Homo sapiens: one gene and its partner. The protein of the gene in region 2 binds, or shares a complex with, the protein of the main gene of each other region. Each region holds a gene or a part of one and is shown on either strand. Other genes may lie near its edges.

Region 1 (7,769 bases), on a different chromosome or scaffold from region 2:
TGACAAATAGCTGTTTAAATTCTTGCCAGCCCATGCTGAATTAAGCCCTTTGACACCAGGCACTTTTAAAAAGCTTACTTGCTGGCCGGGCGCGGTGGTCCACGCCTATAATCCCAGCACTTTGGGAGGCCAAGGCGGGCGGATCACCTGAAGTCAGGCATTCGAGACCAGCCTAGCCAAGATGGTGAAACCTCCTCTCCAGTAAAAATACAAAGTTAGCCAGGTGTAATGGCGCACGCCTCTAGTCCCAGCTACTCAGGAGGCTGAGGCAGAACTGCTTGAACCCGGGAGGCCAAGGCTGCAGTGAGCCGAGATCACGTGCCACTGCACTTTAGCCTGGGCAAAGAGCAAAACTCATCTCAAATAAATAAATAAATGAATAAAAATTAGGCCGGGCGCAGTGGCTCACACCTGCAATCCCAGCACTTCGGGAGGCCGAGGTGGGCAGATCACCTGAGGTCAGGAGTTCAAGACCAGCCTGGCCAATGTGCTAAAACCCCGTCTCTACTAAAAATACAAAAATTAGCCGGGCATGGTGGCAGGCGCCTGTAATCCCAGCTACTCGGGAGGCTGAGGCAGGAGAATCACATGAACCCGGAAGGTGGAGGTTGCAGTAAGTCGAGATCACGCCATTGCACTCCAGCCTGGGCGACAAGAGCGAAACTCCGTCTCAAAAAATAAATAGATAAATAAATCAAATAAAAAATAAAAAAGCTCAATTGCTAGCTGCATGAATCAAAAGATAAAGATTCAAATAGCATCCTGTATTTGCAAAACCTCCCACCCCCCCAGCTAAGGGAGAAAGCCCTCTATAGTTCCTCAAGATAGATGTGCAGGATAACAAAATGTCCTTATCTAGTCTAAGGCACGGCTGGGTCACATTTCCACATAAGAAAGGAACAGGAGCACGTCTCACAAACTGGAGGCAGACGCGGTAGCTCACGCATGTCATCCAAACACTTTGGAAGGCTGAGGTGGGCGGATCACTTGAGCCCAGGAGTTCAAAACCAGCCTGGGCGACATGGCAAAACCCTATCTCTACAAAAAATACTAAAATTAGCCAGGTATGGTGGCAAACCTATAGTCCCCTGCCACTTAGGGGGCTCAGGTGGGAGGACTGTTTGAGCCCAGGAGGTCAAGGCTGCAGTAAGCCACGATTGCTGCCACTGCACTCCAGCCTGGATGAGAGAGAGACTGTCTCAGAAACAAACAGAAAGAAAGAAACTCAAAATGATAGAATAGTTTTAATGCTGAGTTTAGCAGCCCCAGTTGTGATCGGATCTCAAAATTATTATAGTGTGTTGTGTTACACAGCACCACTACATGCACAGATGTTACTTTGTCCCCAAACCATTATAGCAGCCCAGGCAGCCAGAAATATCCTCACATGAGCAGGGTGGTTCTTTTTACTATGATCTCTACTTTTGTTTCTGTTTGTAGTTTCATATTTTGAAAAATTTAATCTACATTTGCCCCACTCCCACCCCCTTCGGGCATCTTCTTTTCTTTTCTTTTTTTGAGGCGGAGTTTTGCTCTTGTTGCCCAGGCTGGAGTGCAGTGGCTGGATCTCGGCTCACTGCAACCTCCGCCTCCCAGGTTCAAGCCATTCTCCTGCCTCAGCCTCCCAAATAGTTGGGATTATAGATGCCCACCACCACGCCCAGCTTCAGGCTTTTTTTTTAAACCACAGGTGCATTTATCACTTTTACCTAAATAGGTTTTTGTAAAAGGACCACAAATGCTACTTCCATGAGGATTTAGGTAAGAAACAAATGGATGAATCAGGAGAAATAGTCTGCAATCTCCTCTACAGCATTAGTCTAGTATAAGGACCACCTACAAAGAAATGACCTGGTGCACCTGTTACAAAGGTAGAACCTTAGGTCTTGGATACACTAACTCTGAAACTCCAACTCAGGCTGTGAAGCCCAGGATTCTGCATCATTAACAAACACCCTAGGAAACTATTTTACCTGGCCCTTCACCCCTCCCATTTCCAACCCCAGCCCACCCCTACCAAATTTTCCAATTTAGAGCATCATTTTATACTTTTCTCTACCTCATACACAACTAAAAAACAGGAAAGGGGTGCTGTTTTATAAAAACTGCACACTACACATATTGTGCAACTTGCTTTTTCCCCCTTATCAGGCATCTCTCTTATTTTCCATCTAAACAACTTTTCCATCCTGAAGTTTCAGCAACTAGTTTCTCATTTGGATAACACTTATTCTGGAACTAATTTCAGCTACTGAATTTTAACTATTGATTTTATGTACCTGCTGATTAGCATCAGAGTTTTCCAATTACAAAGGTTCATAAAGTACTGAAATAGTGTTGGTATGAAATCTATGTAAATCATGACTAGGTTCTTATTAAAATTTAGTAACAAAATTACCCAGCCCAAAATCTCCTGGGGCTAGGCAGCTGTTTGTAGTTAATTAATCCTAAGGTGAGTATATTACTGAACTTCTTATAGGCAGTACAATTAAATGTTTATATGCAAATCAGGCATTGTTTTCTGTCTGCTGGAAACTATAGATATAAAGTCCAAACAGCTTAATGGGCTTTGTTAACACACTGCAAACTGCAGCACATTTACACATACACCATGTGATCCATAAAATTAAGCCGTCAGATTCCATAAAACTCAGCAGCTTATTATGCAATTCAGAGAACTAAAAACTCAGAAATTTCTTAATAAACTATGTGCTAAAATACCAAATATAACATACCCAAATATTTATGAGCAAACAAATTATTACCATGACATTCATAAATAAGGTAACTTTGTGTCTGAGGTTTCGTTTTCAAAATAAATAAAAAGGTGGGAAAAAATACGGCAGAAAATGAAGAACTGATAAAGCTGAGCAGTGGGTTAGTGTTCATTATATTTTGTCCTATTCTCTTCTGCATGTTAAAATATTTCATAAAAGGTAATCTGGGCCGGGCATGGTGGCTCACGCCTGTAATCCCAGCACTTTGGGAGGCCGAGGCGGGTGGATCACGAGGTCAGGAGTTCAGGATCAGCCTGGCCAAGATGGTGAAACCCCATCTCTACTAAAAATATAAAAATTAGCCAGGTGTGGTGGTGGGTGCCTGGAATCCCAGCTACTCAGGAGGCTGAGTCAGAGAATTGCTTGAACCCAAGAGGCAGAGGATGCAGTGAGCCGAGATCGCACCACTGCACTCCAACCTAGGCGACAGAGCAAGACTCCGTCTCAAATTAATTAATTAATTAATTAATTAATTAAAAGGTAATGAGGCTGGGCACTTTGGGATGCCCAGGCAGGCAGATCACTTGAGTTCACAAGTTCAAGGCCAGCCTAAGCAACATGATGAAACCCTGTCTCTACAAAAATTAGACAAAAATACAAAAATTAGTCACTACAGGTGCACACCTGTAGTCCCAGATACTCAGGAGGCTGAGGTCAGAGGATGGCTTGAGCCCAGGAGGCGGAGGTTGCAGTGAGCTGAGATCACACCACTGCACTCTAGCCTGGGTGTTAGAGCCAGGCCTTGCCTCTAAATAAGTAAGTAAATAAATAAATAGGTAATCTGTAGAAGTAATTAAAAGTAATTTTCCAAATTTTTCTCTCCCCTATCCATGCCAGCCAAGGTTTGTAAAATTCCACTTCAAATTTTTTATCTCTGGGAATAACAATGTTGTCTCTAACTCCGTATTTTCAAAACCAACACTAAGTTACAGCCTGGTGTGTAAGTATTCCTATAATTTCTTAAATATAAACTGACTAAAAATATGCAAATAGATCATTTCTGACAACAAATGATCAATGCATAAAACTGCTTGGCAACTGGCTGAGCGCGGTGGCTCACGCCTGTAATCCCAGCACTTTGGGAAGTCAAGACAGTTGAATCACTTGAGATCAGGAGTTCAAAGCCGGCCTGGCCAACATGGTGAAACCCTGTCTTCACTAAAAATACAAAAATTAGCCAGACATGGTGGTGGCACGCCTGTAATCCCAGCTACTTGGAAGGCTGAGGCATGAGAATCGCTTGAACCTGGGAGGTGGAGGTTGCAGTGAGCCGAGATCACAGCACTGCACTCTGGCCTGGGCAACAAGAGAATCGCTTGAGTCTGGGAGGCAGAGGTTGCAGTGAGCCAAGATCACGCCACTGCACTCCAGCCCGGACGACACAGTGAAACTCCATCTCAAAAAAAAAAGGCGGGGGTTGGCAACTATGAAAATAAAAAATGAGAGAACATACCAAAATGAGTAACCAGAGGTCAAAAACAATGAAGACTTGAGGCAAAGAAACGTCTATGCTAATAATCTCTTCCAACTTCAATTATGACCAAAATGAACAAATCCTGTTCCAGCCTAATCCCTTCCCAGTTTGGACTCATAGTTCAATACATTCAGATGTGAAGACAAAGAAAAAAGGGATACTGTCTGCTAGTGACTGAGCAAGAAGAGACTAGGACTTCCTATTGGCCACACAAAACTGCCAAAAGCTGGCACTCTTTAACCCATTTAAACCCTTAAATATTCCAATTTCCACACTGTTGTGCACATCAATAGTTTCTGCCTTTTTATTACTGGGTAGTATTCCATTGTACTACAGTGTGTTTATCCATTCTCTAGCTGAAGTACATCGAGCTGTTTGCAGTGATTACAAGTAAGGCTACTGTAAACATTTGTTTAGAGGTTTTTGTGTCAAGACAGGTTTTAATAACACTAAGGCAGGCCGGCACGGTGGCTCACGCCTGTAATCCCAGCACTTTGGGAGGCCGATGTGGATGGATCACCTGAGGTCAGGAGTTCGAGACCAGTCTGGCCAATGTGGTGAAACCCCATCTCTACTAAAAATACAAAAATTAGCTGGGTGTGATGGCGCGCGTCTGTAGTCCCAGCTACTCGGGAGGCTGAGGCAGAAGTATCGCTTGAACCCGGGAGGCGGAGCTTGCAGTGAGCCGACATTGTGCGACTGCACTCCAGCCTGGACAACAGAGCAAGACTCTGTCTCAAAAAAAAAAAAAAAAATTTCCTTCCCATGACTAGCACAATCTAAACCTGAAGTATGATTTCAGAACTATGCTCATACTTAGAGCCAATAATTTTCTGGGTGCTTCCATTGCTTGTAGGCCCCCTAACATCTTGATTGCAGCAGTAATGGGAAGGAGGGAACCAGTTTAGACAGCCACTTTCCCCAATTCCTCCAGACTGTGCGAAACCACAGGACAAAGGTTCTGCAACAAATGAAGTGCAAGGAAAAAGAAAGAGACAGGAGGAACCTATGAACTGAAAAAGATTTAAGAGATAAATCATTAAATCACAATGTACTGTGAAATGAAAAAGATATAAGAGAAACCAACCAATCAAAATGTTATCAGTTTTCTTGGAAGCCTGACTGAAACTGAAAAACAAAGTTTAAAAGAATGGGTAAAACAGAACAGTGACTAGATATTTTATTATTTTAATTTTAGGTGTAATCATGGTATTATCTTTTTAAGTCCCTACACAGAAATACATACTGAAATATTTATGGATAAAGTGGTATGTCTAAGATCTGCTTCAAAATAATGGGAAGAGTAGAAGTGACCAGTGTACAAATTAAACAAAGCTGGCCTAAGCTTGTAACTGTTGAAGCTAGGTGATGAGTATATGAGGGGTTCATTTTACTACTCACGGTAGTTTTTTTTGTTATTTTGTTTTGAGACAAAGTCTCACTCTGTTGCCCAAACTGAAGTGCAGTGGCACGATCTCGGCTCACTGCAACCTCCACCTCCTGGTTCAAGAGATTCTCCTGCCTGAGGCTCCCAAGCAGGTGGGATTACAGGCACGCACCACCAAACCCAGCTAATTTTTTTATTTTTAGTAGAGATAGGGTTTCACCATGTTGATCAAGCTGGTCTCAAACTCCTGACCTCTGGTGATCCATCCACATCAGCCTCCCAAAGTGCTGGGATTACAGGCGTAAGCCACCGTGCCCAGCCTACCCTAGTGTTATTAAAACCTGTCTTCACACACTGTGCCCGGCCTGTTGTTTTGTTTTTCTGAGACAGAGTCCTGCTCTGTTGCCCAGGCTGGAGTATAGCGCCAGCCGCTCTCTACTTTTCTGTATGTTTGCAGTCTCAAGCAATCCTCCTGTCTTGACTTCCCAAAATGCTGGGATTACATGCGTGAGCAACCCCTGGCCTCCTGTATTTTAAAACTCAGACCTACATATCAAGCTCTTGAGAAAAACAATTCATATCACTGATAGCAGAAGGTCACATCTGATAAAACTATTTAACTGCTCCCCACCAATTCTGTCCCTCTGATTTCCCCTCCTGTGCCTTTTCTTCTTTTTTTTTTTTTTTTTTTTTTTTTTGAGACAGAGTTTCACTCAGTCGCCCAGGCTGGAGTGCAGTGGCGTGGCGTGATCTCAGCTCACTGCAACCTTCGCCTCCTGGGTTCAAGCGATTCTCCTGCAACAGCCTCCCGAGGAGCTGGGATCACAGGCTCACGCCACCATGCCCGGTTAATTTTTTTGTACTTTTAGTAGAGAGGGGGTTTCACCACGTTGGCCAGGCTGGTCTGGAACTCCTAACCTTGGGTGATCTGCCCACCTCAGCCTCCCAAAGTGCTGGGATTATAGGTGTGAGACACCATGCCCAGCCCTTTTCTTCTTTCTAAGCCTTAGATCCTGCTAAACCCAACTTGTAGCACTTCTTCCTCCTTGATTTTTATTTTTCATTTTTCGTCTGAATTATTTTCAGTGTTCTAATCACTGCTCATTACATGTTACACAGATACTGCCCTCAGATGTTAATGTCTCACCTACACCTTTCAGTCTGGTCCCTAAGTGATATCTACTCTCCTTCAGCCAGATATAACCGGTGAACAACTATTTCCAAAATACAAGGCTTCTAAAAGACATCACAGAAAAACAGGAAGTATATTCTGAATCCCAACCCTCAGCTTTTTCATTAAACAAAACTCCAATAGGACAACTAACTATAATATAAATCATTTTACTGAACACTACAAACAATACTGATAAATTGATTCCTAAATGATTAATTCTATTAAAAAAAATTTCAAGGCCAGGCATCGTGGCTCACACCTGTAATCCTAGCACGGTGGGAGGCCAAGGCAGGACTGCTTGAGCCCAGGAGTTCGAGATCAGCCTGGGTAACATAGCGAGACCCCATCTCTAAAAAAAAATTGTAAAAATTAGCCAGGCATGGTAGCACACGCCTGTAGTTGTAGCTACTCAGGAGGCTGAAATGGGAGGATCACTTGAGCCCAGCAGTTGTAGGTTAAGTGAGCTATGATCACGCCACTGCACTCCAACCTGGGCAACAGGGCAAGACCCGGTCTCAAAAATAAACACAGGAAAAAATATATAGATCAGCAAGATACACAATAACAAAACTATAACTATTCCAGCCATTTATCAAGCAAAGAATTAGGGAAAAAACTTTTTCAGCTTTGTGATGTCCCAAAAAATCTAATTCAAAGGATTAGTGGCAAAACAAGCTGATATGTAGGATTTTTGGTTAAACCATTTTCCCCTTACAAAACAGAGAATAATGTGTGTTCCCTGTTTGTATGCCAAAGTCAGCAGTATCTGAAGAACTGCTGGATGGCAAGATTATGCATATTCATAACCATACACCTGACATAATACGTGGAAAGATCTAAAAGATTTTATCTGATTTGAGTAATTCCAGTTCTTTTTATATTTCAATCCTGGAAAGCATAAGCCACATTGGCCAGGGTAAAATATAATCAGATTGGTTAAAGAGGATGTGAGGCCTG
Region 2 (7,769 bases):
AAGCCTGCCTCTTTAGGTGCTCAGAACTCAGACCTTGACTCGTTATTGGTTGTGTGGTGGTGGTAGTTTTTTTCTCCTTAATTATGGTTTGCAATTTAAATTTTATCCTACTTATCATAAGTTATGTGCTTAAAAAGCAGATCTGCAGATCTCACTGTTTCATAATAATGTGATTTAAATAGGTGCACTAACATTTTTCATCCATTCACTAACACATTTAAAAAATATTAATAGAGCCACTTAACAATGTTCAAGCATGGTGCTGAGCTAGAGATACAAAGCTGAACATAAGAAACACCCCTGCCTTTAGGGGGCTTACACTGCAGGAAGAAACCGCTGTGTGAAACAATAGGCAGCATAACTTGCCAAGGTTGCTGTGATCTGAGTATGCTTGAGGAAACCAGTTGGGGGGGGTTAGTTTTATGTGGGGGCAATAGTCACTAAAGGCTTCTGAGATGCACTTGAAAGATAAGTAGGTGGGGTGCTTCTGAGAAGACTCTTCCATGTTCTTTTTCCTGCCAGTTGCACATGTTTTAAAAAAATACTTTCCAGCTTGGGTGGAATCTTGAAAACTCACCATTCTTCCTTCTGGCAGAACCATGTTTGTTATGTTTCCTAAGAAAAAATGTAGCATATATGAAACGTGGGTTGCTCAAAGGGAAGTGTTGCCACAAAAAGGAAGGAAATAGCAAATATTTTAAAGTTATAAAAACCAGCAATTTGTATTTACTTTTGATCCTGGCTTCTTATGGTATATCCAGTTGTTACAAAGTACAGCTTTTTGTTACCTGGCAGCAGACCTAATGAAATAAATGTGTTATGTTGTCTAAGTAATAATGTCAACGTTAATTAGGGTAAGTTTGGGTCTTGGCAGTCTTATTAATGTACTTATTACATTTCAGTAGTTGCGGTGGGGAGAATTAATGAACAAACTATTGTATATTAAATGCTTAATATAGCGAAAATAAAGAATACACACTTTTTAAGGAATAGATTAACTAAAACTGTAAATAAAATTAACATAAAAGGAGGAAAGCAAGGAAATAATGAGAAGAGGATTCCGGGGAAATTACATGAATGGGTTGGGGGAGTAGTATGGTTGAGTGTGGTTTCTTAGTCTAGATCCTGTCTTGTTTTGGGTGGTGAATTCACAGGTGCTTGCAGCATTATAATAATTAAACAAAAGCAGGTAATAAGTGTGTGAATGGATGAGAGTGTGATGTTACTATGATTAATCCCATTCTGTGAACTTAAAATTCAGTGAAAATGAGAAAAACGAAGAAAGCACTTTTGCATTTGCTGTGATGCAGAGATTTGATTTTATAAGCTCAATGTTACAGAAAACTAGCAGGTGCTGGTAAGATGACATCAGTTTCTAATATTTAAAGCGTTTTGCAGGTTTGAGAAGAGAAATGAGGACCTTTAAATGAGCATGAGATTTGCTGCCTGATGATTTCTGAAACTTTTGCGCAATGCAGCAAATCAACTGGAATTGTCAGTCAGCCATCTTAAATGACATGGAATCAGAGGAGATGTGTGGTCTCATAAAATCTCATTAATTCACTATTTAATTTTTGCTAAATATTGAATCTATTGATGGAAGAACTGTTGGCAGCTGAGATCTAGTACACTGCTAGATTTTTAGCCTCAAAGTTTAGAGAACTCTTTTCATCAGAGTTGACTCTTCTGGGGAGGGTGAGGAGTGTTGCCTCCCTCTCTGGGGGTTACTTCCTTCCCTTATTCCCCAGTGCTGCCTCTTTGCCTATTTATTTTTTATTTTATTTTTTTGAGACAGTCTCGCTCTATCATCCAGGCTGGAGTGCAGTGGTGCAATCTTGGCTCACTGCGACCTCCGCCTCCCGGGTTCAAGCAATTCTCCTATCTCACCCTCTTGTCTCAGCTGGGACAGGACTACAGGCGTGCAGCACCACACCTGGCTAGTTTTATATTTTTAATAGAGATGGGTTTTCACCACGTAGGCCAGGCTGGTCTCAAACTCCTGACCTCAAGTGATCCGCCCGCCTCGGTCTCCCAAAGTGCTGGGATTACAGGCATGAGCCACCGCAGCCGGCCCATTATTAGTATTTTAATAAAGCTTATTAAATGCTTGCTATATGACAGAAATTGTAGATGCAAAAATAAATAAGTGAATCTTTCCCCTCGAAGTTTAATGGGCATTTGGTTAACCCATTTCTGGTGGCACTAACGTATTCATAAACACTTTCGGTAAAGTTCTCAAGTTATAAAGAGAAATGGGTTGAGTATCCCTTACCCAAAATGCTTGGGACCAGAAGTGTTTCAGATTTCGGATATTTTTAGATTTTTAGAATGCCTGCATATACATAATGAGATACCTTGAGGATGCGACCCATGTCTAAACACAAAATTCATTTATGCTTCATATATACTTTCTACACATAGCCTGAATATGCAATATATGTCATACTTTTAATAATTTTATGCATGCAAAAAGATTTCACTCTGTTTTTGACTGTGACCCATCACATGAAGTCAAGTGTGGAATTTTTTTTTTTTTTTTTTTTTTTTGAGACAGAGTCTCACTCTGTCACACAGGCTGGAATGCAGTGGTGCAATCTTGGCTCACCGCAAGCTCTGCCTTCTGGGTTCACGCCATTCTCCCGCCTCAGCCTCCTGAGTAGCTGGGACTACAGGTGCCCGCCACCATGCCTGGCTAATTTTGTTTCTGTATTTTTAGTAGAGACGGGGTTTCACCGTGTTAGCCAGGATGGTCTCGATCTCCTGACCTCGTGATCCACCCGCCTCAGCCTCCCAAAGTGCTGGTATTAGAGGTGCGAGACACCGCACCCGGCCTGGTGTGGAATGTTCTACTTTGGGGTCATGTTGTTGCTCGGAACGTTTTAGGTTTTGAAGGATTTCAGATTTTCATACTGGAGATAGTCTGTATTGAGAAAAGCAAATATCTAGAGTTTAGTTTGAGTTGCAAACAAATTTTGATTTATCTTTGTGATTTCCCAGAAAGTCGCATTGTTTATTTCTCAGAATCTGTTAGTATTCCCTTTCCATTTTAAGAATAAAGAAAGAACAGAAGAACCTGTAGTTCAGTAGGCTTTGGTTTGCTGACCAGTTGGATGAAGAGGGCTCAAAAGATTAAACTAAGTTAGATGAAAGGTGCATGGTCATTTCTGAAGAAATGTGTTTGGGAGCCACAGTGCTAAGCTGGACACTCAGCATGGTTTTTCTGTGCTGTTGCTCTGTTTGAGTTTTCTTAGATTAAAATTTAAGGGTATGTATCTAGATGTGAACAATGAGTTTTGAGTTCTGGGTAAGCTGGAAGAAAAGTGTACAAAAGCCTCAAAAGCTGTTTGGTGCAGTGTTGTTCCTTCTGGCCAGTGATTATTGGCCAGAAATTTCTAATTGAGAGGGCTTCGCAAATGGAGTATAAACTGCAGTTTGGCCTCATTTCCTATTTAGCTGTGGGTTGGATATTGATCTTAGTCTGGGGATAGAGCAGTGAACAGAACAACCTGGATCTAGGTTTTCTTGGAGTTCAGAGTTATTAAACTAGGCTCTGAAGTGGACATCAGGGGATTCCCTCCAAGACTTTGAGGACATGGTTATATTTCATCCATATTTCTTAAGGAATGGAGTTCATTATTTTTTCTTGATTTGGCCTCAGTGCTTCAGGCCTGTCACGAGACATCCCCAAGTTCCTGAAAAAGGTCAGTTTTGCACTGAAGACATCTATCAGGAGGAGAGTCTGTCTGCATCCCGGCATCCCTTCATTCTTTTCTTTTCTTTTTTTTTTGGCGGAGTCTTTATCTGTCACCCAGGCTGGAGTGCAGTGGTGTGATCTTGGCTCACTGCAACATCCATCTCCCGGGTTCAGGCGATTATCATGCCTCACCCTCCGGAGTAGCTGGGATTACAGGCACCCACCACCACGCCCAGCTAATTTTTGTATTTTTAATAGAGACAGGTTTTCACCGTGTTGGCCAGGCTGATCTCTTAACTCCTGACCTCAAGTGATCCGCCCACCTATGCCTCCCAAAGTGCTGGGATTACAGGCGTGAGCCACCGTGCCTGACCATCCCTTCATTCTTATGTGATTCATTTGAGCAGTCGGCCATCAATACCCCTGGACAGTCTGCTTTCCCTGCTTCTCTACGGCCTTGCGGGGACCTTTCATTTAAAAATCAAAATGGAGAGGTTTTAGTTAATTTGAGGGTTCACGTATGAAGGAATGGAAGAAACTAAAAAGTGGTGACAGTTTTCTGGGGTGCTGACTTCAGGCAGGGAGTTACTGTACTTAAGACCAGGGCAGTTCTTCTGAGGGAACAGAAGTTGGTGTGCACTCCGTCCCCCACTCCACACAGTGTGGTACCAACATCAGCGAAGGTGTTGGGGCGGCAGGGTCTTAGAATCCCTGTAATGGGGGAGCTGAGAAGTAAGAGTACCTTCAAGAGAAATGCTTGCCGAATCAGACCTAAGGAGGGTATGTGTTAAATATTTTCCTCCTCTCCTGAGCCACAGAACACAAGCAAATTAGGCTTTTCAATAACACGGTTTCCATGGGAAAATGCTTTATGGGCCCCCTGGGAACTGACAGACTTATTTGTCCATAAACTGGGAACTACTGTGCTAAGCATTTACTTGCAATTTGTGGGTTTCTGTTTAAATTAAGTTCTCTTTCTGTCTGTGAGATTGATTTCTTATTTGAAGAAGTAAGCTATGTTGGTGGGTTTCAGAATGTTGATTTTTTTTTTAAAAAGTGGCAGTTGGGGTTCACTGGCGAGGGCTCTGGAGTTGGCCTGGCTGGGTTGGAAGGGGCTTCCGCTGTGGCCTTGGGCAGATTGATTCCCTAAACCCCAGCATCCATGTCTGTGCAGTGCTGGGCTTTCATGGGACCTGCTGCCGATGCTGCATTGCATGTCATGCTTTGCGCCTGCTGACTCGGTTTTTGTTTCCACGTGTTCCTCTGTTCTGCACGGAAGCTGTGTGTTGCTCGTTCACATGCAGATTGTTGATTGTCTCTTTGTAATCACTATCATTAAAGATGACAGATTTCCACTTGGTGTGATATGAGGAAATCAGAGTATTTAAGATGTAACCAGTCTACTCCCCCCTTGATAATTGTAATTGACAAAATCACATCTAAGAGATCATTTCTGTCATTTTTTTCCCTAGGAGTACGTTTAAATTTTTTCTTTATAAAAGGGTAGCTAATTGTGCTACATCAACCTGCTAATTGGTGTTTTTGTAAAGCTTCTACTTTTTGGCACTGACATAAATAGAATTTTTTAAAAATTGGATATATGTAATTAATAATGTTCCAATTCTTACCTCATTATGTGCCCTAGCATTGAAGGATTTCACTCATGGATCACTTGACTGCATGATCTTATAGATGGAAAAATGAATTTTAGAGGCTTATTTTAAAAATAATCCATGGTCTAGCTTCATGTATCAGGAATAGCCCTACATTAATGGTACCAGGAGCCTGGGCCTCTGTTGCTGAAAGGTCCTGGACCTTTTACCTCTAAAATTTCATGATACTTATTTTAACATGAAAAGCCTTTATTGAATTGTGCATTCTTTAATCCCCACCCCTTTTGCCTTTCAGCATTAAACTGAAGAAAAGATGTCCCTGTACGATGACCTAGGAGTGGAGACCAGTGACTCAAAAACAGAAGGCTGGTCCAAAAACTTCAAACTTCTGCAGTCTCAGCTTCAGGTGAAGAAGGCAGCTCTCACTCAGGCAAAGGTAAAGACAAGCCCAGAGCATGAGAGCAGAGGCCTCCAGAGTGGGTTCCTCATTAGGATGACAAGGAATTTGGTTTCAGCTTGCTCTTCTGCCTTTGTATTGGGTAAATGGTGTTAAGCATTTGTAGGGGGAGAGGAATGAGGAGTTTAAGGCCACTTTGCTACTCCTGGCTCCTGGGAATAGGAACATTTCGTGGGGTAGGAATGAAGAAAAACAGTACTCTGCGGGGGCTGGGCGCAGTGGCTCACGCCTGTAATCCCAGCATTTTGGGAGGCCAAGGCAGGCAGATCACGAGGTCAGGAGATCCAGACCATCCTGGCTAACAAGGTGAAACACCGCGGGCGCAGTGGTGGGCACCTGTACTGCCAGCTACTCGGGAGGCTGAGGCAGGAGAATGGCGTGAACCCGGGAGGCAGAGCTTGCAGTGAGCCGAGATCGCGCCACTGCGCTCCAGCCTGAGCGACAGAGCAAGACTCCGATTCAAAAACAAACAAACAAACAAACAAAAAAACAGTACTCTGAACCAGCAGTGACACTGCTTTTCAAACTTAAGTAGTGGAGGTCTAAGATTGAGTGAGAACTTGTTTAAGGTGCTAATTTTGTAGCCTTACTCCTGATATTCTGGTAAACTGTAGTTCAGGCTGGAGCCCCAGGAGTGGGAATTTTTAAGTAGCATTCCTACTGGTTTGGTGGAGGTAGTTTGGAAGCAGCACTTTGGGAAGAAGCTCCACAGAATACCTAAGCTGCTGCGTGCAACTTATTGAGGGCTCAGGTTGATTGTGAAGGCGTCAGGCATAGGTAGTCTGGATGCTGATTGCTTTTGTTTCTGTTGTGTACATGTTGGGTATTGGCAATGTCCTTGAAATAACATGTAAAACATTAAAAACCTAGTTGTCGACTGGATATTTGCCATTAAAATGTAGGCATGAGAATGGTATTATGGTTTGTTTACTACTTTAGAGATCTTTATGTTCTAGAGTATGCATTCGTAATGGAGGCTATATCCCCCCAAACAGAGCGAATATTGGTCTTTTTGGGGGTGAAAAAACCTTGCTCGTGTTGTGCACAGTGTATCTGTGGTGTGAAAATTTCATGTGCGGGAGAAAATTTAGTCAAAGGCTCCTTGCTGGGGAGGCAGTAATTAAAGTTGAGAAAAAGTACTTTAGAGATGTGTACTGAAATATTTACCGATAAGATGATGTCATTTTTGGGATTTACTTCTAAACAATTCAGTCCCGGGCAGGGGAGGGAGGGAAGAACAGAACTACCCATGAGTTGATAATTGTTGAAACTGGATGTGGATAGTAGAGACTTAAGAATTAATATTAATCTCTAATTTCATGTTTGAAAATTTCCGTAATACACAGGTTTTTTGTTTTTTTTTTTTTTTTTTTTTTTTTTTTTTGAGACGTAGTCTCACTTTGTAGCCCAGGCTGGAGCGCAGTGGCATGATCTCAGCTCACTGCAAGCTCCGCCTCCCAGGTTCACGCCATTCTCCTGTCTCAGCCTCCTGAGTAACTGGGACTACAGGCGCCCACCACTGCGCCTGCGGTGTTTCACCTTGTAAGCCAGGATGGTCTCGATTTCCTGACCTCGTGATCCGCCTGCCTTGGTCTCCCAAAGTGCTGGGATTACAGGCGTGAGCCACCGTGTCCGGCCAATACACAGGTTTTTTTTCTTAAAAGTTCTACTCATTTTTCTTTTCCCTTTACCACATCAATAGATACTTACATGGAAGTGCTTACATTTGATTGTTCAGTATTGTAGAGAGGTTTTTTTGTGTTTTTAAAATTCATCATTACCAAATTTAGATTTTTTGGATGCCAGTATTTTGTGTTTTTTTTAAAACAAGGTTTCATTCCAAATGTAAGGAGGGTTAGCAAAACCTCGTTTTTCTCTTTAATTTTTTTTAAAAGTACATTTATAAAATCTTTGTAGATTTCATGTAACTTTTGCTTTGCAGGGAAGATGCAGGTGTGAGCCACCGTGCCCGGCCTCATATAGATTTTTAAAACTTGAGGTAGCT

The links. The genes of interacting proteins can lie anywhere in the genome.
Region 1: the proteins of RBM17 (region 2) and SF3B1 are in contact, whole or in part, in a crystal structure (PDB 2PEH), measured with the Homo sapiens proteins. Residues at the interface, in NP_001139019.1 of Homo sapiens: Leu309, Met312, Val313, Asp319, Asp321, Leu322, Glu325, Thr326, Glu329, Leu372, Arg375, Tyr376, Phe377, Gly378, Gly379, Val382; in NP_036565.2 of Homo sapiens: Arg334, Ser336, Arg337, Trp338, Asp339, Glu340, Thr341, Pro342.

The regions. Positions count from the first base shown.
Region 1 is NC_000002.12:197,424,795-197,432,563, forward strand, and holds part of SF3B1 (splicing factor 3B subunit 1), read right to left. Parts: intron 1-7,769. UniProt on the Homo sapiens protein: Component of the 17S U2 SnRNP complex of the spliceosome, a large ribonucleoprotein complex that removes introns from transcribed pre-mRNAs.
Region 2 is NC_000010.11:6,091,446-6,099,214, forward strand, and holds part of RBM17 (splicing factor 45), read left to right. Parts: intron 1-5,602; 5' UTR 5,603-5,620; coding exon 5,621-5,743; intron 5,744-7,769. UniProt on the Homo sapiens protein: Splice factor that binds to the single-stranded 3'AG at the exon/intron border and promotes its utilization in the second catalytic step. Involved in the regulation of alternative splicing and the utilization of cryptic splice sites.